7 separate regions of the Homo sapiens genome follow, and regions 2, 3, 4, 5, 6 and 7 are each reported to be linked to region 1. The links are microRNA targets in miRTarBase. Many come from high-throughput screens and were not tested one by one. Region 1 holds a microRNA gene; each other region holds the end of a gene's coding sequence.
What was found. Region 1 holds the annotated microRNA hsa-miR-6720-5p (UUCCAGCCCUGGUAGGCGCCGCG, at 1,335-1,357, shown strand). A microRNA usually pairs through its seed, bases 2 to 8, with sites in the 3' UTR of a target mRNA and lowers its output. Matches are read on the target gene's strand: a 7mer-m8 pairs with bases 2 to 8, a 7mer-A1 pairs with bases 2 to 7 and ends in A, and an 8mer does both.

Region 1 (4,076 bases):
CTCCAACAGTTTGGTGACCCCCTCCACTGGCAAATGTCCCTTTAGTGAAAGATCCTGGGATCCAGCTCTGTCCCTCCCACCCCCTCCTCTTAACACTTGCCCAGCTGCAAACATCTCGCTGCAGACACCCCAACATACAGAACATATCTGATTCTGACATTTACTTCGGGACAGAAGTACAGCAAAATGAACGCAAGGAAAAAAAGGGACAAAAGGAACTAGACACAGCTTCCTGACCAAGTTCCCCAAAGGCCAGATGCCTTCTCTCCAAGCTAAGTGAGACTCTGAACGGGAGACCTGCAGTCTCCTGCACAGGGATCCCCAAAGAGCCCAGGAAGGCAGGGGACTTTACACCACGCTCACAGCAGCCAGACAATTCTGAAGCTTCGGCTGCTGGCCAGGGATACTGGGAGGACAGTAAGACCCTGATCCCTGCTCCCACGAATAAGATGCCGGCTTTCCCCAGCATCTGCTTTTCCCAGTGCCCTCAGACCTCCTAGCTTCGGGGTCCCTGTTTGTGGGAGTGGCAGTGGCCGCCAGCCCTGGAGGCCTAGAAGCGGTGCGCCCAGCTGGCTGGGCTGGAGCGTGCTGCGTTACCTGAGAGGTCCTCGCGAGCGTTCTGGTGCAAGTAGCTCTGCTCCAGCGAGTAGGAGGACATGCTGGAGTGCAGGCCTGCCGAGGCGGCGGGGTTGCTGCTGGGCGTCAGGGCAGGCGGCTGCTTGAGGTAAGGCGAGGCGCCAGGCGAGCTCCAGTGCGCCGCAGGGCTCGTGTAGGGCGAGTGGCATTCGATGGCGCTCGCCATGGCCGGGGACGAGGGTACCGGGCTGCTGCTGCTGTCCGGCCCGTAGTCGCCGCCGCCGCCGCCCCCGGCCGCACCGACGCCCCCGGGTCCCGCGGGCACCGGGCAGCTGGCCATGTAGGTGGAACCCGGGTTGGGCGACATGTGCGGGACGTGGTGGTGGTGGTGGTGGTGAGGGTGCGCGTGGCTGGGGGCGCCCGCGCCGGCGTCGTAGCCCGCGGGCATCATGTCGAGGCCGCCGTAGCCGCCCTGGCTGTGGCAGCCGAGCGGCGCCGACGGGGGCGCCTGGAAGTCGAAGCCCTGGGGCAGCAGCGACGCCCCGAAGCCCAAGCCGCTCACCACGCGGTGGTACATGGGCTTGAGCGCCTGGCACTTCCGCCTGAAGCCGCGCGGCCGGCGGCGGAACGAGCCCTCCTCGAACATGAACTCGCTGGCCGGGTCGATGGTCCAGTAGTGGCCCTTGCCGGGCCGCCCGAGGCCCTTAGGCAGCTTGATGAAGCACTCGTTGAGCGAGAGATTGTGGCGCACCGAGTTCTTCCAGCCCTGGTAGGCGCCGCGGAAGAAGGGGAAGCGCGCCTGCAGGAACTGGTAGATCTCGCTGAGCGTCAGGCGCTTGCTGGGCGAGCTCTGGATGGCCATGACGATGAGCGCGATGTACGAGTAGGGCGGCTTCTCGGGCCGCCGCAGCCCCGAGCTCGCCTTCTTGGCGCCCCCGCTCCCGGCGCCCGCGCCGCCGCCGCCCGCGCTCTTGCAGGCAGCCGAGGGGGCGCTGGCCGAATTGGAGGAGGACGAGGACGAGGCGCAGGAGGCGGAGGACGACGACGAGGAGGAGGAGGTGGTCTCCGGGGCGGCGGCGGCGGCGGCGGCGGCGGCGGGCGGCGGGCTCATCAGGGCGGCCTGGAGCGCGCCGGGGACCGGGCTGCACGCGCGGCGGAGCGGGGCCGGCGGCGGCCCGCCCTCGGTGGTCATCTGGGACCCGGGAGCGAGGCCGGGCCGCGAGGGCGGGCCCCGGGCGGGAAGCGGAGGCGCCGGAGCGGGGTCGGCCCAGAAGCCCTGCGAGCGCCCTAGCCCGCCGCCCGGGCTGCAGCCGTGGCCACTCCGGGCCAGCGCTTCGGCGTCGCCTCCCTCAGCTCCTCTGGGGCTTCTGGCGGCGGCGGCGGCGGCGGGCGGGAGGCAACGCCCGGCGCATCCCTCCCCGAGCCGCGGGCCCTGCCTTGCGCAACGGCCTCCCAGGCCGCGGGGCCGAGCGGCCGGCGCCGGGCGACTGCGCCCGCGAGTGGGACCGCGGCCTGGACCCCGGGGACGAGCCCGACGTCTCCCTTCAGGAGCGCTCCTCGCTCTGTCTCTCGGACTTCCTCCCTCCCTCGCCCTCCCCGGCCGCCCTCCTCGCTCCCTCCCTCCCTCCCTCCCCCCCCACCCCGCCCTGCCCCCTCCTCGCTCCGCGCCGCCGCGCTCACTCCTCCCCCTCCCGACCTGGCGGCCGCCTCCCTCTCTTATCTCGCTCCCCGCTCTCCAGGGTCTCCTCGCTCTTCATTCCTCTCGCGGCCTCCTCCCCTTTCCCTCACTCACCCTCTTTCCAATTGAGGGATCACAGACTCACTCCGGTTCTGCCAGGGGGACGACCCCCACCCCTCGCAAAACTCGACCACCTCTGACTTCATGAAATATTCTTTCTGTTTGCCCCCCGCAGCAAGCCCCGCGTCCCATCCCAGGACCCAGCCCCGCCCCTCCGCGCCCCCTTCCTCCTCCTGGCCCGCCGGGCCGAGTGGTGCTGCTGCGGGTGCGGCTGCTCGGAGCCTCCCTGGCCGCCCTCCCCAGGGCCGATACTGACTCCATCTGTCAACTTCGTTTAGACTTTGCCGCCCTCAGCCACACGCCGGGGTGCCAGACGCCCAAAGGTAACGTGCCAATCCTCTCTCTTTCTGGCAGGGCCTGCAGGCTCCCCGACAATTGTTAGGGCGACTGGGGGCCGCCGCAGGGTTGCGGGCCGCTGGCGATCGTGGACGTTTTCGGAACTTTGAGCAGAGGGATTTACACTGAGAAACCTAGGCCAAGTTTCAAAGACTCTGGAAACCTGGATCTCATGGGACTTAGGGTTGCATTTGCTTCCACTTCTTCCCCCCACCCCCGCACCCCAGTTAGTGTTCTGTAAGAAAAAAGTGCAAAAGAAAAAGGAAGGAAGGAAGAAAAGAAAGAAAGAGAAAGAAAAAGAAAGACCCTGAGATAAGCGAGATGGCTATATTTATAGTCAGTCCTGAAGGGGTGTGCAGCTGTCACTAGGTTTACATCCTCCGTCTTAACATTGCCCACCCAAAACTGTGCCAGGTCTCAGCTAACTCCTGTCCGAGAACACTTCTCCCCAGTTGTGGCTAATTCCTCCCTAAGTAAGAGTCAGGCTCTGAGAGAGATGTGCCCTCGGGAGCAATCACTTCCAATGAGACCCGACAGTTAGTTATTGGATTACACGTGCAGGGAAATGTAGTCCGACCAGGGATAGGAGCTGGGAGAGGGAGGAGGAGAGCAGGAGGCCGGAGCTGGCGGGGCCTCCCAAGGGCTGAAGGGGGAGGCCCAGAAAGAAGGTGCTGCAGACCAGCGGACCAAACAGGAGGTAGAGCTGGGCACCCCGCTGCGTCTAGGCTGAAAGGACCGAGGTGCACGGGTGTGCCTGCTGGGGAGCCTGGGGAGTTGCAGGAGGCAGGAGAAAGGGAGGTTGTGCAGTAATCAGGAGGAAGACACCAGGCAAAGAGCCTTCACAGCCGCACAGCCTAGGCAGGCCCCCTGGGGCGGCAGGAGCCCTGTGTGCCCCTGGAGTGCCGGGGGACTGCTCCTGGCTGAGTGTGCTGGTGGGGCTGTAGATGCAGAGAGGGCGGGTGGGGAGGGGAGGGGTATGTGGGAGGGGGGTGGGCCGGGGCTGGCCCCAGACAGTGACCTGAGGTTGAGTGGAAGCAGGCTTTTTCCATCAAACCCTGCCTGGATACCACACACAGAGACCGAGTGTCAGTTTACTGCCCTGAGCCGGCTCCTTCTCCCTAAGCTCCACAGTAATTAGACAAAGAAAACCTAAATTAGCTGAACAGGCGTCGACAGCTTCCTCCAGAGCACCCCTGGTACCTACATGGGAATGTGTCCGAAAATGGCTTGATTGTAGCCGAGAGTCAGCTAAGAAAACACCGCCAAACCGAACTCAGTTTACCACTCATTTCCAATAGAAAAAAGAAACAAGTCGCTCTTTTCCGGGTGGGATGTTTTGATTGGGTTGGGGTAGGGCTTCGCAGTT
Region 2 (4,076 bases), not on the chromosome of region 1:
GTCAAGTTTTAAAAAGTAAGAGGAGCCAGGCTGCTTGCATCAGGCTCTGCTCAACAAACCTGGCCAGTAGGTGCGGCCGTGTGTCCGTGATAGCACTTAGGGGAATTTGTGAAGAGCTGTGACTGCAATACACTGCTATGACCTGTTGCCTGTGGCACTGTGACCACAGAAAATGATGTCTCTAACCTTACTTTGCAGAATAGAAAAGAAACGCACCATCATTCCTACACTGGTGGAAGCAATTAAGGAACAAGATGGAAGAGAAGTGGACTGGGAGTATTTTTATGGCCTGCTTTTTACCTCAGAGAACCTAAAACTAGTGCACATTGTCTGCCATAAGAAAACCACCCACAAGCTCAACTGTGACCCAAGCAGAATCTACAAACCCCAGACAAGGTTGAAGCGGAAGCAGCCTGTGCGGAAACGCCAGTGACACGTACACACCACGTCCTGGTCTTTGTTTGAGGCCTGACGTGGGCATCATTTTAACAGGTGCCTTTTTTGTTTTTTTGTTTTTCGTTTTTTTGGTCACTCCAGTAGCTCCTGGAAAAAACCTTAAAAAATGTTTCCTCCAAATCTGATTTCATTACATTTCTGAATTGTTGGGGTTTTTTTTGTTGTTTTGTTTTGTTTTGTAGATGGAGTTTCACTTTTGTTGCCCAGGCTGGAGTGTAGTGGCGCGATCTCGGCTCAGCCTCCCGAGTAGCTGGGATTACAGGCATGTGCCACCACGCCCGGCTAATGTTTGTATTTTTAGTAGAGACGGGGTTTCACCATGTTGGTCAGGCTGGTCTCAAACTCCTGACCTCAGGTGATCCGCCCACCTCAGCCTCCCAAAGTGCTGGGATGACAGGTGTGAGCCACTGCGCCCAGCCTGAATCATTTCTTATACCTTCTGACAGCCCAACTTCCAGAGGACAGCTCTGGGGTACTCGTTGGATGTCTGTGAGTACCTGGTCATACGGGTCAGTAGGGATAAGAATTGTCTCTGGGCTGAGGAATTCTTCTGTTCTCTGGTTTCACCAGCGTTGGGTTTGCTCATGTAATGTGGTCACCATACTCAAATGGTGTCATGGCTGAAGTTGGCCACCTTGCTTGAGGGACAAGTTGTTTATGTATCAGCTCTCTGCTGGGTCTCCCTTTCCATGGCAAATGGGCAGCTCCATCCTCTTGACTCTTCTAAATGCCCAAAAGAGGTGTCATGCTTTGGGGGTACGATGTTTATACTCCGTAAAGAACATACAAGGACATTCACTGCTGATTTTTTTTTTTGTTTGTTTGAGACAGGGTCTCACTCTGTCGCTCAGGCTGGAGTGCAGTGATGCAATCTTGGCTCACTGCAACCTCCGCCTCTCAGGTTCAAGTGGTTCTCCTTCCTCAGCCTCCCAAGTAGCTGGGATTACAGGCACCTACCACCAGGGCCAGCTAATTTTTGTATGTTTAGTAGAAACGGGGTTTCACCATGTTGGCCAGGCTGTTCTCGAACTCCTGACCTCAGGTGATCTGCCCGCCTCGGTCTCCCAAAGTGCTGGGATTACAGGCATGAGCCACTGCACCTGACCTGCTGAATTGTTTATAATGGCAAGAAATAGGAAACCCCCCAATGTCTGTTGAACAGCTATCACGTTGAACCACGTGAAACTGCTGTTTTCTAGGCCAAAAATGGTGAGCGATCATTTATTTCATGATTCAACCTGATACATTTACATAGTGCAAAACTGTGTCACAGTTTCAGGCTTTTATGAGGAAAGCGTTTCTGTGTAGAAACTGGAAGCTGTTCAGGGCATCGGCAGCTGAACCCTGCTCCGTTGGTCAGCGTTACTATCATCTCGGATCATATGGAGCTCATGTCAGCCGTGTGGGTGGCGGGTGCACAGAGACGGTCTGGAAGGAAACACGCGGATCTGAACAGCAGTAATCCTGGGGGATACGGGGGTTGGGCTAGATTACAGAGGGCTCATTTTCTACGTCATGTATTTTATGATACTTGAATTTTTTGAAATGGGCATTTATTTTATAACATGTTAAAATGTACTTTTTAAATTAAGTCATTTTGTAATATTTGAATTTTTACATTTGTTGTACAATCAGGAAAAGCAATAAAGATTTTTCAAAAATAGACATGTCAAGAAAGTTTGCACTCATTGAGGATGCTGAAAATAAGGATAAAAATAAGGAGTCTGTGATATTTTACAAATTGACTTCATTTACAAATTGAGTCATTTTACAAATTGACTTCAATTTTACAAATTGACTACATTTTCTTCACAGAGCTAAAGCAATACCTTAGAATTAACCCAGTCCTGTGTGGGGAATTTCTAGAAGTCCCATCTATGGTACGGTGATGTTTATCTGCTCTGATCAGGGAAGGACAAACAGTGGGAGAGTCAGGGCCTGGGAACCGGGGGGCCTGGTCCCTCTTCTCAGATCCCTCTTGCAGGGTCTGAAGAACTCTCTGGAGCCAGCAGATCCCACCTGTGCAGCAAGGAGCCTGGCCCGGACAGCTGTGAGGCCCTTCCAGCTCCATCGCTCCAGCCTCAGGAGACGAGCTGCTCTGTTTAACAGCCACAGACGTGGGCCTTTTTCAGAGACACATTCTTTTGTTGTCTGTCTGTTTTTTAAGACAGGGTCTTGTTCTGTCATCCAGGCTGGAGTGCAGTGGTGTGATCTCAGCTCACCGCAGCCTTGAACTCCTGGGTTTAAGTGATTCTCCTGCCTCAGCCTCTGCAGTAACTGAGACCCCGGGCATGTGCCACCATGCCTAGCTAATTTATTTTTATGTTTGTAGAGATGGTCTCACTATGTTGTCCAGGTTGGTCTCAAACTCCTGGGCTCAGGCGATCCACCCACCCTGGCCTCCTGAAGTGCTGGGATTACAGGCGTGAGCCCCTGCACCCGGCGCAAGACACATTCTTGAGGGAAGTCCTTCCTTCTCAGCGGTCCAGGCATGCTGTGCCACCTTGCCCTGGACACACAGGGCGGCTATCCCTCTACCACGTGGCTCCACGGTGCTGCCCCACTGCCTACGACTAGGCCTAGAAGGTTTTGTGTCCCTCAGGCTTTCTGCGCCATCCTGCTGCCGTTGGGCCTTGTCCGTGCCCCTCCTCACCCTTCCTGACTTGAGGCTTCATTTCTGCAGGAGTTGAGACACCGGAAACCCAGGCTTGTTGAGCTGTGTGTGAAGCGTGCAAGGCTCTCCTGGCTGTGACATGGTGTTTTGGTTGTTTTTTTCTTGCTTCCGGGCCCTTGGCTGGGCAAGGTGCTGGTGATTGTTACAAAGAGCTATCACCTATCAGGAGTTATGTCACCCAGAGTCTCAGGTTAGAAAAGGTGGCTGAACCTCTGCAACAAAGAAAGAGTGTGTGGTCTGTGCATTCTCACACAAGAGGGAGAAAAGTTCTAGGAGCTAAGAGTGTGGAATTCTGTGATCTGTGGGGCTGAGGGTCACCTGCTGGGAGGTCCTGGCATCAGTAAGAAGCTTCCAAGGGAAGAGCCCAGTAAAGGCCTGCAGACGGCCTCAACCAGCTCAGTGCCAGGCTCCATCCAGACGGCAAAGCTGCAGCAAACACGACCACAAGACATGGCCCTCCTGCAGCTCAGGAGGAAGCGCTGTAGGCAGAGCCACAGTCGGCCTGCGCCAGGGGGTGTGCGTGAGCACAAATACACTCTTTTGTATCTTATCTTTTATTCCCTCATTCGCCCCCCTTTGGTCAGTCCCCCTAGGTCTGTGCAGGCTACAGTCCACATGTAGACTAGGAAGTGTTTCTACCTGGCAGTGCTTGTTAGTGCAGGTTAACCACTGTGAGTGAATAGGGGTGGCCCCAGGAACACACACACTTTCCACTCTGCGTGCTGCGTCTCCTCTGCAGGTGTATCATCATTTGGGACAGTGCACCTCACTGAAGTCTGCTTAGAGGATGGCAAAATTCTCGTCACCACCAGGATAGGTGCTGTCATTTAAAAAAAAAATTTTTTTTTAATTTTTTGAGACGGAGTCTCGCTCTGTCACCCAGGCTGGAGTGCAGTGGCGTGATCTTGGCTCACTACAAGCTCCGCCTCCTGGGTTCACGCCATTC
Region 3 (4,076 bases), not on the chromosome of region 1:
TATTTATTAATGTCTTCTGAATATAAAAGTAATGCATGTTTATAAAAGACTAAGAAGAGTATAAAAATGCAAATAAAAACTATCTGTAACTTAATCAACCACATACAACCACATTTCTACTATTTAAAAATAAAGCAAGCATGGATTTGTAACAGAAGAGGAACTAATAATAAAAATGAACGGCATGCTTATCCATTTTTATTAACTCATATATGCAAAGTAACGTCCTTAAAAATAAATTGTTCTACACGAATACATGGACAAATTAAAGGCTTTTAAATCAATAACATCTTTTGGATTTAAATATTAAAAGTTACTTTGAGAAGATTTTAGATAAAACATTTCATTGTGTTATTTTATCACACATTAATTTATTCCTCTTCCTCTTATAGGTTTCATCCAAAGAATATCAAAAGGAGGCCTAATTAAAACCAAAAGAAAAAGAAAGAAGCAGAGAGTGAAAATAGCATATGAAGAAATTTTTGTTAAAAATATGTGAATTTGTTATAGCAATGTAACATTAATTCTACTAAATATTTTATATGAAATGTTTCACTATGATTTTCTATTTTTCTTCTAAAATGCTTTTAATTAATATGTTCATTAAATTTTCTATGCTTATTGTACTTGTTATCAACACGTTTGTATCAGAGTTGCTTTTCTAATCTTGTTAAATTGCTTATTCTAGGTCTGTAATTTATTAACTGGCTACTGGGAAATTACTTATTTTCTGGATCTATCTGTATTTTCATTTAACTACAAATTATCATACTACCGGCTACATCAAATCAGTCCTTTGATTCCATTTGGTGACCATCTGTTTGAGAATATGATCATGTAAATGATTATCTCCTTTATAGCCTGTAACCAGATTAAGGAATACAGCTCTTAAAAAATCAAGAACTTCCTGAGTTTCACATATAAAATGGTGACAAACACCTGCTTCTGATAAAGTTTATCCAATTTTGTATTTATAGTATTCTATTGTAATAATAGAATTCTATTATGTGCTTCCCTCCTTAGACATAGTTTTTCTCCTTTTGTACTAACCAGTACTTCCATCTATATTGAGCTAAACTGTCTTTGAACAGTCAACTCTGCATCATGTGCCTGCCTGATTTGGATTGGTTTCACTTTTTTTTTTGTTTGACCATAGCCCATTCTATCAGTCAAGATGACTGAATAATTGTGTGTTAAATACAACTCATGATAAGGAGAACCTTTATGGAAACAAGAAGTTTTATGGCAATCGAGAGGGAATTATTTATATGTACTTCTTAATACTATGCTTCCCAATATTTTTTCTTACTAAAAATAACAAAAATATTTAAACCTTCTGAAATCTATTCAGTTATCATTAGGATTTGCACACAATGCAACTAATAATTCATGCTTTAAAAAGTAGGTTATTTCTGTTGAAGAGAAAATTATCAGCAGGGAAGAGTCTACTAGAAAATTCATGTGCTAGTCATTCTTGGGGATTTAATATTTTGCTGGAGTTAATTCACTATATCCAGACCTGTATCTTTCATTTATTGCTGAGCCATGTGCAGTCTGGCATCTCAACAACCTCAACAACCTCAACAACCTCCAAGACATGTCAGTTTCTGTAGTGTTCACCTCAAATCTGACACTGGAATTGGAACTGATTTAGAAACAACCATTTCATTCATTTGGTATGACTAGCTTCATGACTAGCTTCATGAATAGCTTCATGAATAGCTTCATGACTTCTCGCTAACAATGATAGTATAATTCTGCCTGTTCTTCAGGATTGAAATTTTGAACTCAATTTAGATTTCCTGTTTTCCCTCATATACCACATCTAAACAGTCTCCAAATCTTTATGCTTTTTTTTTTTTTTTTCGAAAAAGTTCACCCAATCCCTAGGCTTTTTACTTTTTTCTTTTTCTTTTCTTTTTTCTTGTTTTTTTTTTTTTTTCATTTTGTTTTGTTTTGTTATGTTTTTTTAGACAGGGTCCCACTCTGTCACCCAGGCTGGAGTGCAGTGGTGCAATCACAGGACACTGAAACCTCCCACCTAGCTGGGACTAGAGGTGCAGGCCACCACACCAGCTAATTTATGTAATTTTTGTAGAGACGAGTTTCACCACGTTACCTAGGCTTGTCTTGAACACCTGGGCTCAAGCAATCTTCCAGCCCCAGCCTCCCAAAGTGCTGGGATTACAGGTATAAACCACAATGCCCCCGTTTTTACTCTTTACTGCATCCTTCCCATCAGTATTAATTCCTCAGAAATTTAGTACATTCCTCCACCATTTCAAAATGCTCCCAGAACTCACACTAGTTGGTACTTAACTACAACCTTCAACCTCACCATTTAATTTTGATGTATGTTTTTGGATTTACCAACAGTACTTTCTTTCATGACTACTTTGATTTAGTTAAGAATGCTCACTGTACACTGAATGTTAATTACTCAGCTAATTCACACTGATTTCCTGTTTAAAAATATGATCCCCTCCAGGCCATTCATGTGAAGTCAGGGTACAGCTGATGCCAGCTACAGAATCACTATGTTTCAATATGGAATATGAAAAGTCCTAACACATAATTGCAAATCATTTTCTACTATGGTATACAAATTTTATCATTACAAAATAGTATCAGCTTTTTTCACTTAAGGAAAATAATACATCTTCATTCAAATATTCAGTGCATAAATAATTGCCTTAAATTGAGTCTTTGCTGTGGAATTTGAGAGTTTTGGAAATCAAAGGCCCTTGTGAAACATTTCCTGTTGCCATTTATTTATAGATAGCAATAGCTTCAAATGAGTGGGAAAGTCTACTTAGGTGAAGTGGTAAATAGTCACTAAGATTGTATAAATAGCGCATTGATGAGTTGCCTAATTGTTTTCTCCAACAATAACCACTGGTCCATTGGTTCACTACTTACTCAAGAAAGACATATACTGAGATGGCTTGAAATGTTTAATGCATGTGAACGTTATTTTTACCGTGTTTTGGAAAAAGATCTTGATGTTATTGTCTTCCTTTATTTTCCACAATTAAGTGCATCTAACTGTGAATTGTATATGGAATTACATTATTCAGCATATACATATATTTACCTGCTTTGTTCATTCTCTGTATTCAAAATTAACAGATCATGCTGAAAACCACTCAAACGATTATATTTTTTACATTATAAGAAGTAAAATATATTATTCTGAATAATGAAACCTGGCTGTTGTACTCGTAAAGATTTTAGTACATAAAGAATTCAATGCTCATTAGTTATCATAACGGTACAAAATCTTAAGACCAAAAATGATTGTTCCCACACTCTGGTTTTATTTCCTTAAATTGGAATTGTTAATAGCTGCCTTTTAATTGCAAGTACACACCCATATATTATAATTTATTTGTCAAACAAATTAGTACACTATGTCCTAACAATCTATACATTTAAAATTTACTCTGCTACATATATATTTTCATCACTCATTTCATATACAATTGTATGAATATAGACATGTATATTTAAATATATGTTATATAACTATACATTACATAACTTCCTATCCTGGCTATTGTATTTGGCCTAGCCCATCTCTATATCAGAAGAAAAAAAATCATGACACTAAACTAGCTAACTAGGCTGTTGGTTGATTCTGTCATCAGCGGCTCCTGCTCTTACCTGGTTTTTAGCAAATTAGCAATTTTATTTAGTGTTTCCAACTTTTGACTTTAAGTGCTTTCTCAGGGACTTTGGCTGGGATGTACTTTAATCACTTTCCCCACATTTTGCTAGGTAGAACAGAAAACCTTGCTTTTGTTGGTCCTGCAGGTCCAGTTTCTGAACTACTTACAACCACATAGCTAGTTTCTTGGTTAGAATTACTCAGAGTACTTATAAATATAAGAAATATTTAGATAGTAGGTGCATGGTAATTTATTGTACCAGGAAAAGGGAGACAGAGAGAGACTTTAACCTTATAATAAATAAAATGGAGCATTAGGACAATGAATATGATTTCCTCATCAATTCAGCCACAGATTGTAAAATTTCTAGCCCAATCAGTTTGAAATAAAACAGAGATATATTTGAAT
Region 4 (4,076 bases), not on the chromosome of region 1:
GTCGAGGACAAGACAGATGATCCCGGGACCCATGTCCAATGTGTCAAAAGGACATTCCTTGCTTCAGGGGATTATGCAGACTTTCAGCCATTCACACAGAGTGAGGACAGTCAGATGAAACATAGAGAAGAGATGTCAAATGAGGACTCCAGTGACTATGAAAATGTGCTAACTGCCAAGTTAGGAGGCAGGGACTCTGAGCAGGGGCCTGGCACTCAGCTCCTTCCTGATGAATGAAGACCCAGGTACCCAGCCATAAAGCCACATTGAGTAGTCTATCCCATAGGATTGACTACTGCAGAGTCTAGTGCAGACCCGTGATCACCTTAGTGCTTCAGTGGATTCACTGGTTAGATTAAAAAGAGGCTGAGATGAGCAGTGAACTAAGAGGCCACACAAAAGCAGAGGTTTGGGAATTCCAGAAGGGAATTCTTCTCAAGCAGAGTGTGGTTATCTCCTGTACCAGCCTAAGAATGTTTGCTGAAACTGCTTCCTAGAACTGTGAAGAAAGCAGGAAAGTAGTGCACAGTAGTCTAAGATTATTACCTTCATTAATACCAACAGGCTGCAAAGCAAGAGTATAGATTATTGTATAATCCAGTCAGAGGTCAAAAGGAAGGAAGAAGTTGGAGTGGAGTGGGGTGGGCAATTTCCATTTTAAAGAGTGTAGGCAGGCCAGGTGCAGTGGCTCATGCCTGTAATCCCAGCATTTTGGTAGGCCGAGGAGGGCAGATCACTTGGTGCCAGGAGTTCTAGACCAGCCTGGCCAACATGACCCATCTTTACTAAAAATACAAAAATTAGCCAGGCGTGGTGGTGTGCCCCTGTAATCCCAGCTACTCAGGAGGCTGAAGCAGGAGAATCGCTTGAACCCGGGAGGTGGAGGTTGCAGCAAGCCGAGATTGTGCCACTGTACTCCAGCCTGGTGACAGAGCGAGACTCCCTCTCAAAAAAAAAAACAAACAAAAAAGAAGTGTGGGCAACCAAATGTAGGTAAGGATGAAGAAGAACAGGAACTCTCACTGGTGGCTGATGGGATTGCAAAGCGTCAGGGCAGCTTTGAAAAACTTTTCAGCAGTTTCTTATAAGCATAACTTATCATATGGCCCAGCCATTTCACTACTAGAAATTGACGCAAGTGAACTGAAAACTTATGTTCACACAAAAACTCGCACATGACTGTTTATAGCAGCTTCATTCATAATTACCAAAAACTAGAAATAACCCAGATATCCTTCAACAGGTGATTGGATAAGCTGTTGATATCCATTCCTTGAGTTTATCCATACTCAACAGTAAAAAATGAACTCTTGGTTCACACAATAATATAGACATATCTTAAATCCATTTTGCTAAGTGAAAGAAGCTAGGCCTAAAAGTCTACATGTTGGGCGATTCTATTTATATGACATTCTGGAAAAGGCAAAACTATAGGGATGAAGAACAGATCAGTTGTTGTCAGGTTTGAGAAAAGGAGGGAAGTTTGCTACAAAGGGGCTGCAAAGGGAATAGGCTGATGGAGCTGTTCTGTATGGTACTGTGTGGTGGATACATGACAATATCCATTTGCAAACACAAGAACTATACACATGGCCAGGCGCGGTGGCTCACACCCGTAATCCCAGCACTTTGCGGGGCCGAGGCAGGGGAACACAAGGTCAGGAGATCAAGACTGTCCTGGACAACATGGTGAAACCCTGTCTCTACTGTCTCTAACATTTGTAAACCTGTCTCTAATTTGTAATTTGTAAACCCTGTCTCTCATATTTGTAAAACTACAAAAATTAGCTTGGCATGGTGGTGTGCGCCTGTAGTCCCAGCTACTAGGAGGCTGAGGCAGGAGAATCACTTGAACCAGGAAGGCGGACTGCATTCCAGCCTGGGCAACAGAGAAAGACTCTGTCTCAAAAAAAAAAAAAAAAAAAAAAAACTGTACACTAGACAAAGGGGCTTTTATTGTATGCAAATTTTTTAAAAATGAACAGACTGTCAAGGGAACCCAGGATGGTATGCAAATTGTGGCAAATGAATCTAATTGTATTATAAATGTATGATATCAACTCACTGAAAGGGATGGGGAAAAAAGAACTGACAAAGTTGGAAAACAATGTTTTGACTTATAACTGTAGATAAGGACACAAAGAACTGTATACAAAAACTGCACTCTGGTTGGTAAATTTGTATCTCACAGAGGCATGGCTTAGCAATTCTAAAACGACTTTATATGTATATTTGGGTTAAATAAGTCAATCTATTGTAGATAAGGAGAGACAGGTTAGTGTAAGAATTGAATTGCAGGGCACCCAACTGGTGTCCAGAAAGCTGGAAAATTGGTCAGCTGTTGGGGGGAGAAAATCCACACATCTGGTGTCAGAAGTGTCGTGAGTGAAAACAGACCATCACTCCACCAAGTGGCCAGCATTTAAATTCATGCCACACAGAGGGAACCATGACAGTCTGGTACTGATGACCATGCAGGGTTAGCCAGGGCAGCAGCAAGCGCATCGAAAGGACAATCCCATAGTCAAGTAAGGAGAAGTTTGTATCATATGTGAGAATGAAGCTTAAATGGACTGAACAAAATCTTAAACATTGGCATGACAGAATTCTCATAACTAAGAGGGGATGAAAAGTTATGAGATCTAAATTAGAAGTTATGAAGACATCTGTCACCCAGTAAGGGTGGGAGGGACAACGTATCAGTTGGGGGCAGGTCCTGGAATAAACTAAGCCAGCTCTTTTTTATTTTTTGAGATGGAGCTTTGGTCTTGTCACCCAGGCTGGAGTGCAATGGCATGATCTTGGCTCACTGCAACCTCCACCTCCCAAGTTCAAGCAATTCTCCTGCCTTCGCCTCCCAAGTAGCTGAGATTACAGGCGCCTGCTACCATGGTAATTTTGTATTTTTAGTAGAGATGGGGTTTCACCATGTTGGTTAGGCTGGTCTCGAACTTCTGACCTCAGGTGATCCACCTGCTGTGGCCTCCCAAAGTGCTGGAATTACAGGCGTGAGCCACCACACTGGGCCTTAAGGCAGCTCTTGCTTGTTTACACACCAACAAGCTGGATACCTCAATCAGCCAGTCACACTTACATACTCTCCCAAATCAAGAATGATTAATGCACTGTAGATTGTCTCATATTTAGATACGTAACTTTTCTGTTTATTTCTTGTTTTAAGAAATTTTTGCAAATGAATCAATGAAAAATTTTTTATTGAATGTTAATTTTTTTCTTTCCATTTATGGTTTTGTTTTCTCACATTAGTTGCCAGGAAATGTTGACTAATTGTCTTATCTCATACACTCGATGATGCTAAATATGAGGAAATTTTTTCAAGATTAGGATAGGATGAAAAAGTAGATATAAAGATAACCAAGGCCAGGTACAGTGGCTCACGCCTATAATCCCAGCTCTGTGGGAGGCCACGGCAGGCAGATGACTTCAGCCCAGGGGTTCAAGACCAGCCTGGGCAACATGGTAAAACCCATCTCTACAAAAAATACAAAAATTAGCTAGACATGGTGGTGCCTGCCTGTAGTTCCAGCTACTCGGGAGGCTGAGGTGGGAGGATCACTTGAGCCCAAGAGGTTGAGGCTGCAGTGAGCCATATTCTTGCCTCTGCATTCCAGCCTGGGTGATAGCAAGACTCTGCCTCAAACAAACAAAGATAACTAACCCATTTTGATTCCTTAATTAGTTAAATAAAATGAATTAATTACCCAAACCTACATTATATTGATTGTGTCTTCATTCAGGATACTGTTTAGTACAAAATACAGAGGTTTGCTAAGTTCCCTCCTTCCCTCTAGAAGCACCCACCCTCTAATGGTGAATGGAAGATGAGGTCTTGCTGTCCCTCTGGCATCTGTTCTCCTTCAGCACCCCCTTACTATGACAGGCTTTATCGTCAATTCTGGGTTTCCTGTGGGCTGAGGGCCTATACTGACTTGCAAATATTTCCAGAAACTCTCAGTCAATAAGCCGGTGTCCTGCTCCCCTGAAGTTAGAGAGAAATGGAAGTAAACAGGCCTCCCTTTCCTCTTACCAATCGTTTCCTTCAGCATTCCCAGCTC
Region 5 (4,000 bases), not on the chromosome of region 1:
GGTTTTACTTCTACATGATTACATTTATTTCTCTTTTAAATCTTGCTATTAAAAAGGGAAGTAACAAGGTATTCTCATGTAGAATAAAAAGCCAAGTGCCTTTCTGGATCCAAGACTTCTGAAATAAGAGTTGTTCCTGTTCAAAAGCTGCCTGGTCCAAGACTGATGTAACTAAAGACAATATCATAGGATCTTAGCCTTCTAATCTCACTAGGGAGACAATGTAATAATATCTCAAAGCTTTTCTCCCTGTTGTGACCAGTAAGAAAATATGTTCACTAAAACAACAAAACGATTTTACTGCCTGTTTGTTTCTGCAGCCTCTGCTATGGCACATCTTCACTGTGGGGTCTGGGAACTAACTAGAAGTTTGGGTATACTTTTTTTTTTTTTTTGAGATGGAGTCTCATCATCTGTCAGCCAGACTGGAGTGCAGTGGTGTGATGTCAGCTCACTGCAACCTCCGCCTCCCGGGTTCAAGCGATTCTCCTGTCTCAGCCTCCTGAGTAGCTGGGATTACAGGCACCTGCCGCCATGCCTGGCTAATTTTTGTATTTTTAGTAGAGACAGACAGGGTTTCACCATGTTGGCCAGGCTGGTCTCGAACTTCTGACCTCAAATGATCTGCCTGCATTGGCCTCCCAAAGTGTTGGGATTACAGGCATGAGCCACTGTGCCCGACCGTGGGTTTATTTTTAGTATGCGTTCTTGCAATGGTAAGTGGGAATTTATATTTCACCTTAAAAGAGTATAAAATTAACCGTGGTCTTGAAGTAGGTTTTAGGCACTTTTCATACCGAGTTAAGTCAAAACATTCTAAAAGTAAGTATAAAACTAAATAAATAAATGATCTTTAAAGATAATGTGAATCATTAGTCTGATGAAATGGGATTTTGTGACCTTGTAGTAACTGGACTGATATTACTATATCCATTATAAATGTCTAGTAGCTGAATTTCCAATGAGAAACTCCTCTTCTCTCCCCAACAGTGTTAAGAAAGGATTTTCAGTAGCAAATTATTTATCCAAAGCTATTTTCTTTACAATGAAAGATGAAAAATGGTTATAATGATATTCAACTCTAAAGAATTTCAAACTCTATTTATAAATAAATAAAAGTATACCTATAGAGGTAAAATCATTATTATAAGACTCTTCCTGATTTTAGGACTTTGAAAGTTTGTTACTTGGAGGGACAAAATCTATTTGAGGACTCAGACTATGATGGGACCTAGCTCCACCATTAGAAAGCAACATTAAACCAATGTGACAGTAAAAGAAATGCAGGCCATAAACTGTTTTTTTTAAATATCTATATAAAAAATAATGAGCAATTTACAGATCTTTCTCTAATCAGAACCTCAAGTGTATATATAAAGGTACTGTACAATATATAAACATTTACAACCAGTACATCCACATTTTGCTCAGCATTCCAAGGCCACATTGCTAAGTCAGTATATAATCAGTACAGAGTTTACTTAGGAAGAACCACATAGGACAACATATGACATCAAAGTTATGTCACAGTTAACAAAAATAGGATTCGTTATCACTAATTGTGGACTACAGGGAAAATAATAAATAATTTCTGTGGTACTAAATTCTTAGTATTTATCAAGCCTCCTAATTTTGCTCTATTTGAATAGTTACAATAGGTGGGTAAATATAGTTCTGGATGAAAAGGGGATTTCAAAAATCTCACTCTGGGAAGCATGTCTTATCTACAGGGGCTAATTGAGTTGTTGGGTTAAAGAGTTTCACAGTCAGACTCCCAGAGGGAAGGACCTGGACCTAATGTGCTTCACAACAAGATGAACCCAGGTGACAGAACAAGTGTGTTCACACACTCCATAAAATAGTTTTATTCTCAGAAGGTGCCTTTATTTATATAGATGCTACTGAATGCTGCTTCAGGGAACTGAAAAACCTGGATCTATTTTATGGAAGTTGTTAACAGTCTCCAACTTCTAAGAAACATCTTTAACTAGACTTTTAAAAAGAATTCTGAAAATGTGTACAAGTTAAGCAGATGTTTAGTCTCCCTTTCTTGTTTTTAAATAAGAAAGTTAGTTAATGTAGCTAAAAGTTAAATAAGATCCAGTAAGTACTGTCTACACATTTGTCCTCATTTGCTGGGCATACCCTACACAGGTTGTTTTTAAACACCCAAGCTTGTGCACCTGCTACCAGAAGAGTTGGTACTTGGACTGTGAAACTGGTTTCATGATTAAGTCCCTCACATAATCTATATAATATGTTTACTTTTCAAATATGTATTATGTATTAAAGACTAATGACTTTAGTAGTAGGTACAGCCAAAATATCCAGAAATAGTTGGTGGTTTTTCTTCAAAGAGCAATAAACACTATTTCCACATGCTTCTTTATGGTTTCATAATTAAATAACTGAAATAAAAAGGGTGACCTGAGATGCTGTAAGTATACATCGAGGTTGGATAACACAGCAGGAGATGAACTCTATTGCTTAAAGTACTTTCTTATTTCAAACATTCAATTGTAAGTAATATCTTTAACAGTTATTTGAAACAACTTATCCAGCCAAATTAAAATAAAAAGCCATAAGAAAGCATCAATATTGGACTACATTTTTTTTTTCCTTAAAGTAGTGATGTTTGGGGGTTTTATTTTTAAAGTGGGACATCATCAGTAGCTGTTAGAAGAGACAACGGCCATCTTTAACGATGAGTTAACAGTCTCTTCTTCTGCAAGGACTCACATATTTCTCTCTGTAAACATGCAACATGCTATTGAGATCATCAACTTCCAAGCCAAACCTAACTTTTTCATTACTGTGGAAACAGCTGAACAAAAAGGATAAAAACAGACATGATACAGTAGATAACTTGGCACAAATACAAAGTGAGTTGTGACCACATTGTTAATATCAACATATGTCATTTGTTCAGACACTCATGAAGACGAGCTGGGCAGCCTGAGCAGGGCGGGTCAGATGAGCATGTGGATGCAGCTCCTTCCTGAGAGCGAGGGAGGGCAGCCGGCCAGGGGGACAGTTGGTTCTTAGCAATCCTAAAGGCCCTTCATGCAGCCTAGGTAACTTGAGGCTCACATTAACATGTACTTATCTGTTTCAGAATATCTGAAAAAAAAAAAAAGGCTTTTTCTGGAAAAATGCTGCTGTAAGAAAAGATTACAACTTGTTTTTCTTTGTTTTATACTAAAGGTTACTGCCGTTTCTCAGCCATACCAATAGTGCCTGTGACTTTATTTCCACTTGGAACCTTCCAGGGCCCTGGAGTTATCAGTGTTTTCTTAACTGGAGAACTGCTTTCCGGTTTGAACCTTCCAGTCTCTTTGTTTTTGTCAGCTGCCTCTAGTTCTTTCCCTTTGTGATCTTCTGTTTTGTTTGAAACTACCTTCTCTTCAGGTTCTTGCTTCAGCCTCTTTTCTGATAGCTGGACATTTTCTCCTATTTTATCGTTACTAGAACTTGTTTCTCCTGTGGTTACTTTCTTTCCTTTTTCATTTTCAGATACTTCTTTACTTGTAGTCTTATTAGTCATTTTGGATGGAAGAGATTTCTCAACCATTCTTTTGATTTTTTTCTCTGGAGACCTTGTTCTGCTTTTTTCCAACTGATTCTGCTTTGCATCTTTCCTGATGACGTCTGATTTTTCCTTCCCATCTGGGATCTGCTCAGCATTACTGCCCGTATAGCCTGCTATTCTTCGACTCTTACCCTCTAATAATTTGGCCTCAGCATTTGATGGAGCTTTGCTTCCTTCAATTTTTTGCTGCTTTTTTGGGCTGGCCGACCGACCTCTGCTTTTTCTGCACTGATCTTGTCCAGAGCCTGCCCTGGTGCTGACCTGACAACTTTTATTTTCCCCTTTGCTGGGGCTGAGGGATTGATCTCTGGGTCTTCTTTTGGGGTTATTTTTTAGAGGACTAGGAATCTTATCCAAATGTTCCTCTGAATGTTGACTGGCTGGCTTTTTGGGACTAACCGATCTACCTCT
Region 6 (4,076 bases), not on the chromosome of region 1:
TGAGAGACTCAGAGAGAGTGACAGAGACCACTAGAAAGCAGTGAGCAGAGCGATGAGGGGAGGTTGGGGAGCTGGAAAGACAGGTTCAGTGAGGGAGGAAGACAGGGACGCCAAGGGCTCAGGGAGAAGGCCGGGAGGAGCAAGGGGGCTCGAGGAGTGGCCAGAGCCCCTTGCTGCCCTCTAGAGGCCCCGGCTGAGCAGAGGGTCTGTTGTCCACCCCACCCCCACTCCCACCCAGCCCCATCCCCAGCCAGCTGGCTTCCCAGAGGAGGCAACAGCCCCGATTAGTCTTTGTTCTCTTTGGGACACAGGGGCTGCCCTCTTGCCACTGGCTGGGCTCCCACCTCCACCAAGCGCCTGTCCTCCCTCTTCCACCAGGGTGGTGGTTTGACGCCTGTGGCCTGTCAAACCTCAACGGCGTCTACTACCACGCTCCCGACAACAAGTACAAGATGGACGGCATCCGCTGGCACTACTTCAAGGGCCCCAGCTACTCACTGCGTGCCTCTCGCATGATGATACGGCCTTTGGACATCTAACGAGCAGCTGTGCCAGAGGCTGGACCACACAGGAGAAGCTCGGACTTGGCACTCCTGGACAACCTGGACCCAGATGCAAGACACTGTGCCACCGCCTTCCCTGACACCCTGGGCTTCCTGAGCCAGCCCTCCTTGACCCAGAAGTCCAGAAGGGTCATCTGCCCCCCAACTCCCCTCCGTCTGTGACATGGAGGGTGTTCGGGGCCCATCCCTCTGATGTAGTCCTCGCCCCTCTTCTCTCCCTCCCCCTTCAGGGGCTCCCTGCCTGAGGGTCACAGTACCTTGAATGGGCTGAGAACAGACCAAACTTGATTCCCATGACCAATGGTGGGGTTGCAGGCAGGTGGGAATGTATTTGCACATCGGAAGCTGCCCAGATGGCCCAGGTTCTCTCCCTTGGATTGGCAAGAAGGCCATCTCCCATTCTAAGCTCCTGTTCCAAGATTTTCTAGTCTTGAGATGTCCTTGAACTTTCTTTTCAAGTCTGAAGGGGCTGCATCCACCCCTTAGTGGGTGGGTTAATCATTATTTCCCCTTCACACTTCACCACTTCTAGGTTCTAATGACCCTAGATCTCAGGGTCTTTAGACTTCACCACTTCTAGGCTTTACCACTTCACCACTTCTAGGCTCCAATGTTTGGAGCTCAGGGTCTTTAGGAGACCCAAAAGGACATGCTCCTTCACCTCCAGCATGTCCTAGAGGATGTGTCACAGGGAATAACTATGGCTTGTCTCTAAAAGTACCTATGAGCAATGAGAAAAGGAAACAGCAGGTTAAGTCAAAGTGAACAGGCACTCTTCACTGCAGGACTGATCAGAGCCTTTAATATGGCCAAGTGCCTTGTGACTACCCATGAAGGGGCTAGAGTGGGCAGCTTTCTCCAAATTTACTTATTTGAAAATGGGCTCGGTTTGTCCCAGAGCATCTCACAGGACTGTAGATGCTCTTGGACAAAGCTAGTGCTCCCCTGGCATAAGGAGGAGCCCTACGACCCCATCCCCACCCCAGCTATACTCACCCTTTTTGGCTACAAGGGCCACAGTGACAGCCTCAAACAACCTCTAAAAACAACTGGAAATAACCTTTCAGTTAAAACAGATACCATCCCTGAAGAAGGGTCTAGAACTAGGTCCCTGTCTGTGTTATAGGCTCATGTCCTCCAAGGCTCCTTCAAGTCCCAGGAAGCTGATCTCTACCTGGGTGGCTTCCCTTAGGACTCCCTGTAACCTCAACTCCCCCAGGCTCAATTACAGGGACTGTTAGGCAGGACATCTGTCTCCAAGTCCAGATCCTCTCTGCCTCCAAGCCCTAACCCCTAGCCTCCCTCCCTTCCCCATCCAGCAGTGATGCTGCCTCTGTGGTGGTAGGTGGGGAGCTGCAGGGGAGGAGATAAGGCCTCTGCCTGAGTTTGGGAGACCAGGGCCCTCATAGCTTCTTTCAGAGGATGGAGTCAGAAAGGATCCACAGCTACTCTGTCACCTGCCCCCATCACTGTGTCATGCTGTCTGCCCTGTTGTCATCAGCCAACACCCAGGCATAGCCAGGAGCCCACCTGCCCTACCGCCAGGATACACCTCTGTCCTCAGAAGGTTTTCTCCTGGATGAGACTGAGCCAATGGGAATGGGACCCCTTCATCCCCCTGGCTCGCCCCAGCCCTGAGTCCCACTCTCAGCCGATCCCTGAGTAAACCCAGCACAGACTGACTTTGATCTCATTCCTGGGAATTAGCACTCTTCCCCTTCAAGACTCAAAGGACATGGTTGCTAATGGTGGCATTTCAGGCATGATGGGAAATCTTTAGGGGCAGATTGCTGCCCAGAGAGCTCAAATCGCCTTAAGCAGCATTTGCCCAGCAGACCTTTATTTAGCCTCTACTGTGTGCAGTGTGGTGTGGTGGGCAGGGCTTTGGAGTCGGACAAACCTGCTCCAGCTCTGACACTTTGGTCCAGTGGCTCAGCCTCTCAAGGCACCAGTTATCTTCACATCATCAAAGCCTCAGTTTTCCCATCTGTAAAATGGAGATGATAATATTCCTTCCTGGCTGGGCTATGGCAAGGAGGAAATGAGACCATGTATGTCATCTTCTTAATAGAGCCTGGCATGAAGCAGGTGCCTAATAAATGTTTGTCCTCAAAGAGGAGAATGGGGTGAGGAAGGCATTCCCCAGCACATGCCGCCCCTTCTCCTGCACTCAGGTGAGGAAAAGGCATTTTATTTTTGTATCCACATCATTTATTTTTCTATTGTAGTTTCTAGGCTGACTGCAAGCTAGAGAGGAGACAGGGCAAAGCTGTGAGGCCCAGGGACAGAACTCCTCTGGGTGGGTTGAAGGCCCAAGTCCCTCTCTACTCCCATTTTATAAGGGGGCAGGAAGCTGATTTGAGTTATCCTCAGACACCTGTTCTTTATGTAATTTTATTTTATTTTTTTGAGACAGAGTCTCACTCTGTCACCCAGGCTGGAGTGCAGTGGCATGATCTCAGATCACTGCAATCTCTGCCTCCTGGTTCAAGTGATTCTCCTACCTCAGCCTCCTGAGTAATGGGATTACAGACGCCTACCACCACGCCCGGAAAACTTTTGTATTTTTAGTAGAAACGGGTTTTCACCATGTTGGCCAGGCTGGTCTCAAACTCCTGGCCTCATGTGATCCACCTGCCTCAGCCTCCCAAAGTGCTGGGATTACAGGCATGAGCCACCATACCCAGCCTCAGACACCTGTTCTTAAATATTCATCCTTCTTTCTTACCTTCCTTCCTCTTCCATGCCAGGACTCAGGTATAAGGGATAGAAATTCTAGCCCTAAGGAATAAATTGACTCACATAACTGGAAAGTCTAAGGGTAAAGGCAAGTGAGGTTAGATCCAGAGGCTCAAATGATGTCAGCTCCACCTCTCAGCCCCTCCATCTGCCCCGTTGACTTCATTCTCAGCCAGGATCTTTCCTCACAAGAAGGCTCTGGCAGCCCCAGGCTCATGTCCTCCCAGCTCAGCATCCCTGACCCGGGGAGCTCCCTCGTCTCCATGATTCCAGTAAAGGAATGATTTTCTGCAGCCAGGATTGGTCTTGTGTCCATCCCTATGCTTATCACTCTTACTCTGCTTGACCAGACCTCGGTCTCATGATCATGCCTGGCACCAGCAGTGGGGTCAGTGACACCCAAGTCATGACTTCAGGAAACAGGGATGCTAGGCAGCCTTCCCTCGTTCCCTGTCCCTGGCTCTCATCTCTCTTCTCTCCACCTCTGTGCCCTCTCTCGGCCTCCCTGTCCCCAGGTCCTGACCCCAGGATCCAGTTCATCCCAGATTGCCTCTGACTATCAAGGGCACAGCTGTGTCCTGCCCAGGAATATTAGACCCTGTTATCAGTCTGGCTCTGCCATTGGATCAGAGCCCCTGGCCCTCTCTGAACCTCAGTTTCCCATGGACAGAGCACCTAGCAACCTCTGAAAGCCCTTCTGACAGTGAGGCTGACTCACAATGGCTGCAGACAAGACCAACCTGAGGATCCTGGGCAGCACAAGGCACTGTAGAG
Region 7 (4,076 bases), not on the chromosome of region 1:
TGGACAGTCAACAGAAAACCTACGTGCAGCTCTTGGCCAGCACCCACTGCCCATAGTATGTCCGCAAACAGCAGATTGGTGCTGGGGACAAACCACTCACAGGCACATCCCTTCTGCAGTGGCCATTCTGCTCCCTGCCCTGAACGCCCGACCAGGGCAATCAGGCACACCGGCTGCCACCCCAGGCCACTGCACCAACTCCTGGAGGTCGGTGCTGTAGCTGACTTATCCAAGGAAAGTGAGGCACAGCAAGACTGAGGTCCCATGGCTTATAGGTGGCAGCCCTCTGCCTCCCTGAGGCTTGCTCTTGACTTTCCAAATTTGGCCTTGCTTATCCCTTGCATAATCTAAAAGAGCAGCTTATTTTTATAGAAATAGTGGGTGGCAGACAGCACGGAAAAGTGGAGAGTTCTGCCCTGCCTGATGCCCCACCCCTGCCCCTTCACCCCACCCTTCCCACATACCACATGGTTGTTACTAAGTCGGCTTTGTAACAACCAGGGCAGCCCAGATGCTCTGGTCCCATGCCCCACTCTCCATTCTGTGACCTGCTGTGGATCCTTTTCCCAGAGCTGTGGGATGGAAATCTCCCCCGCAGCCCTCAGCTCCTCCCAAGCCCACTTTAATAATTAAATACCAAAGGAAGGAGGAGGAAAGTGGAGGAGAGCGGGCAGTTCCCGCTCATCTCATCATCTGTGCAGTCTCCCTCCATTAGCACAGAGAGCGAGGTGGTCCAGGGAGGTGTGGGAATCCTGGGGCTTTGCGGGGGGATGGAGGGGAAGAAAGCTTGTTCCCTAGCAAGACTGCAAACACCTGCACCTGAGAAGGGCCACGGGTTGGGGGAGGCCTAGTTCCTGGGGTTCACCTCTGCCCCTCCCGCCTTAGGATCCATCAGGGCAGATGCCTCCTCCTAGAGTCGGACCCAGCCTATTCCTGACCTCCAGGCCCTGCTACTGCGTGAGGCTGTCCACCCCCTCACCGGCCCTGGCTCTGAGCTGTTGCAGCAGCATCCAGGCAGGGAGGCCCCTTCCTTCTAGGTCAGCAGCTCCCCACGAGGACTCAGGGCTGGAGTCCTGGGGTGGGGACTCCTAAGGAAGAGATGAATTCCCAGGAACTGGGATGCTCTGGGCCCTGAGGAGGAGCCAGGACCCCAGATGGACCCCCCACCCAGCTGCCTTCAGGAGAGGGACGTGCTTCTGCCCACTTGTGTAGCTAGGATGCCCGTGCTGGTGGGAGCTTTCGCCACTGGACGAGGTCCTAGCCCTGCCTCCTGGTGTGTCTGCTCAAGGCCCCACCTGGCTTCTCTGAGTCGCTGGAAATGACCTGTTGGACATGGTGGTCTCCAGCTCTGCTCTTCTGGGATCCTCTGACCAGCGCTGGGGAGGGTGGGACTTGGAGGATGGCAGAGCTCGTTCTGGGCACTGGGAGGGAGCGGGTGGGGACATGCAACCTTCATCACCTAGAGGTCCTGGAACTACGACATCTGGGCCACATGAGATCCCCTCTTTTCCTAGAGCGGTGGTCTTGCTGAGAGGACCTGACCAGGATTGTTAGAAAGGGGAGCATGGAGGAGCAGTGGGCTGAGGAGCAGGGGCAGGAGGGCAGTGGAGGTCAGGTTGGCCGGGCAGTGGATCATCAGGGACACAGAACTGGGGGGTCAGCCCACTGAGGGCTGGACCACTTCACCAGGGGCAGGCTGAGCAGGCTCCAGGGCCTGCAGTTAGAAGGCCACGTTCCAGGTGGCTGGGTGCGTGAACCTGGTGGTACTGCCCACGCCTCTACTCATTCCCACCTGGAGCTCGGAGTGCTGCCCGCCTGCCTGCTCCTGGCTCTGCTCTGCAGACGAGGGGCCCAACTCTGTCAGCCACGTTTCCTGACTGGGGGCACCAACACCTCTGCCATGATCTCTCTCCATGGGACCATGGGGTGAGCAGGCTTGCCTTAAGGCTTGTCTCAAAGGAGCCAGGGTCCTAGGTTGCACACCAGGAACCCAGGATGGGGCCCTTCTGGGGGCTGACCAGAGGCAAAAGGGCCAGGCAGGAACCCTTCTAGCGTGGCGCTGGCTGGGCTGTCATCTTGGGAGGGCTCCCAGCCTATCGCTGGGTTGTAGAGAGATGTCTGGGCACTGGGAGGCTGGCTCAGGGATCTCAAGACAGAGAGGGGCATCCTGAACGGGGGCAACAGGAGGAGAGGCAGCAATCCACTCCACGGAGCCTCCGGTGGACACAGGCAGGACCATGGTGGCCGGCCCAGAGCCTGGCATGGAGGAGGTGAGAGCTGTGGCTCCCAGAGGCCGTGGGGGCCTCCGAGCTGAGAAGGGGCACTGGGATACGCCGGCACAGGACAGCCTGGCTGACCACGGCTCCCTCTGGCAGGGAGTGGACAAGCCACAGGAGCGGGAACACGGGTGTGTGCAGACCCAGCCCCAGGAGGAGGCCTGAGAGCAGAGGCAAAGAGCAAAGTGTGCGGGAGAGCTGGCGGGGGGTGCCACCCGTCCCGGGACTCTGTGCCCTTGGGCGTCCTCACTGTCGGAAACAGAGACCCAGGGTAGGACTGTGGGCATGAAGCCTTCCTGGCTGCAAGTTATAAAATGTTTATTGATATACATTTTGTCTTTTATAAAACTTCCGTTGGCCACATTGGGCCACTGTGCACCACAGTGCCAGTCCCCAGGTGGCCAGGGCGGAGCCAGTGTCCACTTTCGGGTGGGGGCTGGAGCCAAGAGGCTGTCCAGGAGCTGCCCAGTGGGTCCTCATGGCCTGCGGGATACCTCAAGTGCTCCCGGAGGCAGCCTAGGACTGGCTCGTCCCGGAGTCAGAAAAGGCAGGTCAACTACCCAAGGCGGCCAAAGGCCCTTCCTGTCTCCAGAGCCTTGACATAACCAGAAATCCCCCCATCAAAGTCACCAAATGACTCGACGGGGGGAAGGGAGGTTGTTTGCAGAAAGACTTAGCTACAAGGCATGTGAACCAGAACTTTCTTCCAGACACCATTTCCTTCACATTTGCTCACTGATAATGCCTTAAGAGGATCGAATCTCTGGAACAGCCCTGAATGGCAGGGATGAGGCTGCTGGCCTGGTGCTGGCTGGGACACAGTCAAGGAGGGCTGACCCAAGAGGCAGAGGTGGCTAGGCTGGGTGTTGACCTCCTCTCTTTTACCAACCAGCCTAGGGCAAGGAGGGGCCCCACCACCTGGGGGCAACTTCTGTACAAGAGGTCTCTAGGGGAGCAGAATGGGTGGGGGAGCCGGGCAGGGGCCACAGGGTCTGTTTGCTGGTGGCTGCCCAGTCTCCCAGCCACCCCTGGAGTCCCCAGCCCAGGGAGAAGGAGGCCCGAGGAGAGGAAACAGATCTTTCTTCTCCTGTATGGACTCAGAAGCAGGTGCCCATTCCTGTCCCAAGGCGAAGGGTCTTGGAGGCCGCTTCCTGCCCCTGCCTCCTCCAGGCGCTGGAGTCTCAGGAGGCGTTCCCCGGGGGACACTGCATCTCCATGGTGACTGTGTTGGGCGTGCTGCCCCCGGCCTCCCCCAGCTCAGCGCCGTCCCGCAGGGCCCGCTGGAAGACCACCCTGAGCGGCTCCCACAGCCGCTGCGACTTGTCCCTCCCGGCCAGGAAGTAGACGATGGGCTTGGCGCTGCTGTTGATGCAGATGCACAGGTCAGTGACGTACTCGGGGAAGGGGGCCGGGATCTGGAAGACCCAGAAGAGGAACCAGTCGATCCCTAAGTAGATGGAGGACACCAGGAAGACGGAGACCATGGCCAGGATGACGTGGTTGAGCTTGGCAGAGCGCTGGCGCCGTCGGGCCCGGCACTCCACGTGCAGGATGAGGGCCAGGCAGGGCAGCACCATGAGCGGGCAGCAGAGCAGGAACAGGAGGATGCCCAGGAAGATGTCCATGTGCCTGCAGGCCGCGCCGGGGGCCCCGCGGCCCAGGAACACGCAGAAGTAGTTGTGCAGGCAGGTGACCAGGAGGGACAGGACCCACAGCAGGGCGCACACCACGGCCGACAGGCGCTTGGGCCGCCGGCGCCAGTACCAGGCGGGGAAGATGACCGAGGCGCAGCGCTCGGCG

Region 2: miRTarBase lists DFFB as a target of hsa-miR-6720-5p. Seed matches in the 3' UTR shown: 7mer-m8 at 663-669 and 7mer-m8 at 1,307-1,313.
Region 3: the mRNA of TFPI is a reported target of hsa-miR-6720-5p. Seed matches in the 3' UTR shown: 7mer-m8 at 1,997-2,003.
Region 4: miRTarBase lists LAX1 as a target of hsa-miR-6720-5p. The part of its 3' UTR that is shown has no 7-base or 8-base seed match.
Region 5: miRTarBase lists MAGI3 as a target of hsa-miR-6720-5p. Seed matches in the 3' UTR shown: 7mer-m8 at 2,557-2,563.
Region 6: the mRNA of ANGPT4 is a reported target of hsa-miR-6720-5p. Seed matches in the 3' UTR shown: 7mer-m8 at 557-563 and 7mer-m8 at 2,999-3,005.
Region 7: the mRNA of MRGPRF is a reported target of hsa-miR-6720-5p. The part of its 3' UTR that is shown has no 7-base or 8-base seed match.

What each region holds. Positions count from the first base shown.
Region 1 is chr6:1,387,640-1,391,715 of GRCh38, reverse strand. MIR6720 (microRNA 6720) reads left to right here and starts at 1,305; the gene lies at 1,305-1,402. FOXF2 (forkhead box F2) reads right to left here and starts at 2,140. Exons shown (of 2, transcript NM_001452.2): 1 at 598-2,140. The coding sequence starts at 1,768. FOXF2-DT (FOXF2 divergent transcript) reads left to right here and starts at 2,255. Exons shown (of 3, transcript NR_187218.1): 1 at 2,255-2,697. RefSeq lists an enhancer at 93-958.
Region 2 is chr1:3,883,309-3,887,384 of GRCh38, forward strand. DFFB (DNA fragmentation factor subunit beta) reads left to right here. Exons shown (of 7, transcript NM_004402.4): 7 at 199-2,121. The coding sequence ends at 433. Among named protein-coding and RNA genes, the nearest start is that of C1orf174, 15 kb to the right of the region's middle.
Region 3 is chr2:187,463,359-187,467,434 of GRCh38, reverse strand. TFPI (tissue factor pathway inhibitor) reads left to right here. Exons shown (of 8, transcript NM_006287.6): 8 at 393-3,205. The coding sequence ends at 499. The region is part of intron 2 of CALCRL-AS1 (CALCRL and TFPI antisense RNA 1); the gene reads right to left. Among named protein-coding and RNA genes, the nearest start is that of CALCRL, 17 kb to the right of the region's middle. RefSeq lists a silencer at 2,347-2,547.
Region 4 is chr1:203,774,445-203,778,520 of GRCh38, forward strand. It overlaps LAX1 (lymphocyte transmembrane adaptor 1), which reads left to right. Exons shown (of 5, transcript NM_017773.4): 5 at 1-1,928. The coding sequence ends at 237. Among named protein-coding and RNA genes, the nearest start is that of LAX1, 11 kb to the left of the region's middle.
Region 5 is chr1:113,683,220-113,687,219 of GRCh38, reverse strand. MAGI3 (membrane associated guanylate kinase, WW and PDZ domain containing 3) reads right to left here. Exons shown (of 21, transcript NM_001142782.2): 21 at 1,297-4,000. The coding sequence ends at 3,206. Among named protein-coding and RNA genes, the nearest start is that of PHTF1, 74 kb to the left of the region's middle.
Region 6 is chr20:869,423-873,498 of GRCh38, reverse strand. It overlaps ANGPT4 (angiopoietin 4), which reads left to right. Exons shown (of 9, transcript NM_015985.4): 9 at 379-3,599. The coding sequence ends at 539. It overlaps LOC124904854 (a long non-coding RNA gene), which reads right to left and starts at 2,547. Exons shown (of 3, transcript XR_007067485.1): 1 at 2,464-2,547; 2 at 1-602. RefSeq lists enhancers at 1-479, 480-980.
Region 7 is chr11:69,001,821-69,005,896 of GRCh38, forward strand. MRGPRF (MAS related GPR family member F) reads right to left here. Exons shown (of 3, transcript NM_145015.5): 3 at 2,578-4,076. The coding sequence ends at 3,458. Among named protein-coding and RNA genes, the nearest start is that of MRGPRF-AS1, 8.5 kb to the right of the region's middle. RefSeq lists enhancers at 590-1,090, 2,051-2,552.